Regions from separate parts of the Homo sapiens genome. Here region 2 is linked to region 1. The links come from fine-mapping of genetic effects on gene expression. Tissue or cell type: cerebellum. Region 1 holds a variant in brackets; the other region holds the start of a gene. All regions are shown on one strand. Distances are from middle to middle.

Evidence for each region. PIP is the estimated chance that this variant, and not a neighbour inherited with it, causes the effect.
Region 2: RBP3 starts here. The variant in region 1 is fine-mapped to the expression of RBP3 in cerebellum (GTEx, PIP above 0.99). The same link has a PIP of 0.9 or more in cerebellar hemisphere.

The regions. Positions count from the first base shown.
Region 1 is chr10:47,367,576-47,370,330 of GRCh38, reverse strand. ZNF488 (zinc finger protein 488) reads left to right here. Exons shown (of 2, transcript NM_153034.4): 2 at 1,394-2,755. The coding sequence starts at 1,502. The coding sequence ends at 2,524. Among named protein-coding and RNA genes, the nearest start is that of ZNF488, 15 kb to the left of the region's middle. The variant G/A (reference allele first, on the strand shown) is at 1,564.
Region 2 is chr10:47,347,035-47,349,789 of GRCh38, reverse strand. It overlaps RBP3 (retinol binding protein 3), which reads right to left and starts at 1,427. Exons shown (of 4, transcript NM_002900.3): 1 at 1-1,427. The coding sequence starts at 1,305.

The DNA of each region.
Region 1 (2,755 bases):
TTGGTGGAGCTTCATAGTTTGATTTTACATCAGAGTTGGAAAGCAAAGCATACCCTTCTGCTACAGCTAGTGGTTTCCCCACCTGCGCCTGAGCTATGGACTGGGCAGGGGCCAAGTGCCCAGCAAGGAGCACAGGGAAGGAGCAGGAGGTGGAGAAGCTCAGAGGCAGGCTGCAGTAGGCTCCTCGCCCTTCTCACCATGCGGATGTCTCCTCCCTTGGCCCTATGGGAATATGGAGGGCTCACATTCTCCTCTCTGTGCAGGAGCAGGTCTCCACACTCTTTGGGAGGAGGAAGTTGACTTCTTTCTAACAGTTGCTGTCCTGTCATTCATTCATTCATTCATTCATTCAGCAAAGGCTTCCTGAGCTCCTGTCCTGTTGCAGGCTTGATTAAGTACTACAGATGTGAAGGTGAATTGACATATTTGGGTTCTTAGAGTTTGCCTTCTAGCAGACCACAAACAAGTAAATATAATGTTGCACGTGGTGCATGCAGGCCTTTGGTGCCCAGGACAGTGAGGGCATGGAGGAGGGAGTGTTGTCTGTGTCTGAGAGCACTGGGCAAGCCTCAAGGGGAGACTGTGCCTGAGGTGCATTTTGGAATGAGTTCACAGGTACGATGGGAATGAAGCTGCCCACATGTACTTGGGAGTTGGGGGAAGAGTGGGGACACTTGACTCTCACAAGAAGCATGGCTCTGAGAAAATCAGAGACCGCGCAGAAGCTGACAGGGCATGTGATGTGGACAAAGGGGCCACCAGGCTGGGAGGCAGGTCTGGTAGACCGAGGAGCAATGGGTTGAAATTAGGGTCGGGACAGAGAGGGCTGCATGAGGAGCAAAGACCATGAAGTCCATGGTCCTCCAACACTGCGACCCTCATGCTGCGGCCTCCCTGTGCCCTCAGCACTCAGCCAGGGCCAGAGGTAGCTCGAGCATGGAGCAGGGGCTGAGGGTGCATGGCTTCCTCATGATGGAGTCTACTTGTTGACAGATGACCCAGAAACTTCTGAAGGGCCCCCAAGGCCCTAATGCAGCCCCCAGAGCAGGCTCTTTCCCTTCCCCTGCAGACTCTCCATTTCATGCCTGGTTAATCCCCAGGAACCACTTTTGACAGGGGAATCCTACGTTTCTCTCTACTGAGCTGTAGAGGCTGCTGCCCATGGGCATTTTCAGCAGAGACCTCAGTCCCTACTCTGCCTCAGGGAGGTGGGCCCTGGAGGATGGTGCCATCCATGCTCCTTGTCTCCTGAGAGGTGGTGCAGTCAGCACACCCATCCCACAGACAGCGGAGGAGGCCTGAGCATCAGGGTCCTGTCTGATGCCAGCTCATGATGCACTGTGCCTGAGTGATGAATGCCCATCTCACTGCCTGTCGCTTCCTCTCTCTGCAGGGCCCTGTGGCCGAGTGTGTCCAGCCCAGTGTCATGGGGAGCTTCCATATCTCATGGCTCCTTGCTGGGCCAAGCCCTCCAGAACCCCAAACCCCCAAAGACTGATGAATGCCAGAGTGGCCACCTTGCTTATCTGTGGCCCCGGCCCTGGTGATCACCATGGCAGCTGG[G/A]AAGGGAGCCCCGTTGAGCCCATCGGCTGAAAACAGATGGCGACTTAGCGAACCTGAGCTGGGCCGGGGCTGCAAGCCAGTGCTGCTCGAGAAGACGAACCGCCTGGGCCCTGAGGCTGCTGTGGGCAGGGCGGGCCGGGATGTGGGCAGTGCGGAGCTGGCACTGTTGGTAGCCCCAGGCAAGCCCCGACCTGGCAAGCCGCTGCCCCCGAAGACACGTGGAGAGCAGAGGCAGAGCGCCTTCACGGAGCTGCCGAGGATGAAGGACCGGCAGGTGGATGCTCAGGCCCAGGAGAGGGAGCACGATGACCCCACAGGCCAACCTGGTGCCCCACAGCTGACCCAGAACATCCCCAGAGGCCCAGCTGGCAGCAAAGTCTTCTCTGTGTGGCCCAGCGGAGCACGAAGTGAGCAAAGAAGCGCCTTTAGCAAACCAACCAAGCGACCAGCAGAGAGGCCTGAGCTAACCTCAGTCTTCCCTGCAGGGGAATCTGCAGATGCCCTGGGGGAGCTGTCTGGACTCCTCAACACTACAGACCTCGCTTGTTGGGGTCGACTTTCAACTCCCAAGCTTTTGGTTGGTGATTTGTGGAACTTGCAAGCATTGCCACAGAATGCTCCACTCTGTAGCACTTTTCTGGGTGCCCCTACACTGTGGCTGGAGCATACCCAGGCCCAGGTGCCCCCACCCTCATCATCCTCCACCACTTCGTGGGCCCTCCTGCCACCCACCCTCACCTCCCTGGGCTTGTCCACCCAGAACTGGTGTGCAAAGTGCAACCTGTCCTTTCGCCTAACGTCCGACCTGGTCTTTCACATGCGATCCCACCACAAAAAGGAGCATGCGGGGCCTGACCCACATTCTCAGAAGCGGAGAGAAGAGGCCCTTGCCTGCCCTGTGTGCCAGGAGCACTTCCGGGAGCGCCACCACCTCTCCCGGCACATGACTTCTCACAGCTAGCAGGTGACCGCAGAATGACCTGCTGGGTGCAGCAGCCAGCCTTTGGCAGAGGGGGGCTCCCTGGGCCTGCGTTGAGGGGGCTGTCATGGTCCTTTGCAGAGCTGCTGCTTTTGGCATTCATAGATAAACAGCTCAGGCATAATTTGAAAAAGCCACACCTGCATGATGTGTTTTGAAGGAAATGAAGTCCTGAAATAAAGTGATGGGCTTTGCAAATCCAGGGTAGAGGCC
Region 2 (2,755 bases), 21 kb after region 1:
CAGCACCGACACCTGGAACACAGAGTCCACCAGTGCTTGCCGGATAGCCTCGTCCTCAGGCAACTCTGGGGCCACCCCTGGTGAGTCTTCGGCTGCAGCGTCGGGCGCGGGCCAAGAAGGAGTTTCTGTGGGCCCGATGGCTCGCACCAGGAGCCTGGGATCCTCAGACGCAGCCTGCAGGCCGGCATTGAGCTTGGTGACCAGATCTTCCTCGGAGACCACCGTGGAGAAGTCCATGCTGGCCAAGTGCTGCAGCAGGGTGGGCACACGGTCCACCAGCGTGTAGTAGTCCTTCAGGACCTCCTGGAGGCAGTGGACTACCCCTGGAAGGGCGCTGCGCAGAGTGAGGATGGCCAGGGCTTTCTCCAGGGCCTGCTCGGCCGGAGTCCCCACACAGGGCAGCACCCCGCTGCCCTCCCACGTCTGGCTGCCTCCACCAAGGGGCCCCAGGGACCTGGACACGGGCACCGTGAAGAAGAAGTCAGACTCGCCTATCCTCAGCTTCCGGAGGTCCAGGGCCCCTCCCCCAGTCCGCTCGCCCACCACGATGGCCCTGCGCATCTGCTTAAGGATGTGCGCGATGTCCTCGGCCACGCCCCTGGTCTGGCTGCTGGTGAGGACCACCACATCCTTGTCGGCACCGTACCTTTCTCCCAGGACCTGGGGCAAGGTCCAGATCTCCGTGGTGGTGTTGGAGGGGCGGTTGTAGATAGTGTCCACGTGCAGGATGGTGTTCCCTGGGTGCAGGTAGGAGATGATGTAGGGAATGCCAGAGACCTGGCCTCCTGTGCAGTGCCGGAGATCCAGCACTAAGGCGGAGGTGCCCATGAGATTCCCCCACACGTGGGCCACCAGGAACTCCCCCATCATGCTCAGCACCTCCTGGCCCGGGACGCTGTCCACCCGCAGGTAGCCCACATTACCCTCCAGAACCTCATGGCGGAGGCCCCTTTGCAGCCAGGCAAGCAGTTCCTCTTCTGAGAGGCTGGTGAGTGCTGGGACTTGTGGGGGAGGCTCGGGGGTGCTGGGCTCATAGGAGATGACCAGGCGAGGATCGTTCAGGGAGCTCTGCACCCCGGCTGTCAGCACACTGGCCAGCGTCTGCGGGTCTGAGATGCTCAGAATCTCATGGCTCTTGATGGCCTGCTGGATGGCTTCCTGCATGCCCAGCAGGTTCTCCGGGAAGCAGTAGTTATCCAAGAGGACCTTGGCCATGTCCAGCACCAGGCTTGGCTGGAACAGGTGTGTGGGGCCAGCCAGGCCACAGAGCAGCACGGACATGAGCAGAACCCATTCTCTCATCATGGGGACCCAGGGGGAGGCCTGGCTCCTGCACAAAAGCTCCCTGGACTGTGTGCAAGGCCGTGGCCCTGCTCTGTGCAGCTGCCTTCCGCCCTTGTCCTTCTCAGCTGGTGGACAGAAGGTCTGGGGCTAAACTCCTGAGTTGGGGCAAGGCTTCCAGCTCCAGTAAGCCTTTAATCCTGTCTAATTCAAGCACATCAACCCTGGGTATCGGGGAGGAGTGGCCAGGGTGGTTTGACCCAGAAGGTACATTGCATCTTATCTTGCTGTGTTGTGTCTGCATATCATAACATTAATCACTGCCATTATTTTAGTTCCTGCTACATGCCAGACACTGTGCTCCATCCTTTACAAGCTGACAGTTTCCACCAGAGCCTTGCAAAGTCCAGTTATTAACTTGCAAGTCCTCCTTGGAGAACTGTTCTGCCACTGTCTCTCCCGTGGCCTCAGGGAAATGTCTTAATTACTTATTGTGTAGATTAAATGAGAAAATATGTGTAAAGCACTTCTTCCCAGTACCCAGTAAGTAGGAAGCACTCATTACTGGTAAGTTATCTGTATTAGATATTACCTCTGTTTCATAGCTAAAAAACAAAAAAACAAAAAAACAAAACAAAACAAAGCAAAGCAAAACAAAACAGGCCAGAGAGTTCTGTAACTAATAGAAGCCCATCGTTTTAGGTGTGGACAGATAGGGGGTGCAGCAAGAAGAAGTCCTTGGGGCTACAATTGGCCCATACAGTGCAGAGGCTGAGTCTGAGGCTGGCATCAGCCTCAGAGCTTGAGATTTATTTCTATGTCCCTTTAATGCCTCCAGGGAACAGAACGGGTCCCCCTACAGCTTTCTAATGCTGGGAATGATGTGTCTGGACCACCATGTAGGGTGTGGAGTGTAGAGGCGCCCACCTTCCAGACATCACAGGACTAGTGTTCCCATTCAAATGAGGTTAGCTCTGAGAGTTAATGGCTAGAGGGGACTCCTGCTTCTTGAAGGCTCAGCCCACAGCCTGCAGTTCGCAGGGAGAATCAAGCAGGAAGTCTTGGGTCTCCGTGGTCCCAGGCTTCACATGGAATCCAGATCATTCCTCCTGACTGCATAAAGCACAAGAAACAGGGAAAGGTAGACTGCTGAACTCTTCAGATCCCAGCTCCTGCCACTTCTTATAGAAATAATGTGGGTGCTGCTTGCAACTGACTGGCTGTAGAAATCCAAGAAGTCCTGCTATGGGGTCGGAACCTGGAAGCCCTGCTTTGCCGCTGAATGCCTCTGGAGATGGGCACTTTCCTCACTTAACAGACAGACAACTACGGCCCAGAGAGTGGTCGCAAGGCCAGGGCAGAGCGTTGGGAGAGCTGTCCCAAGCTGGCTCCAGCAACACCGCCTTGGCTGAGCGGGCAGCAGGCAGGCGCCCCTGTGTGCCTCAGTAGGCAGCTGGAGAAGGTGGTCTCAGGG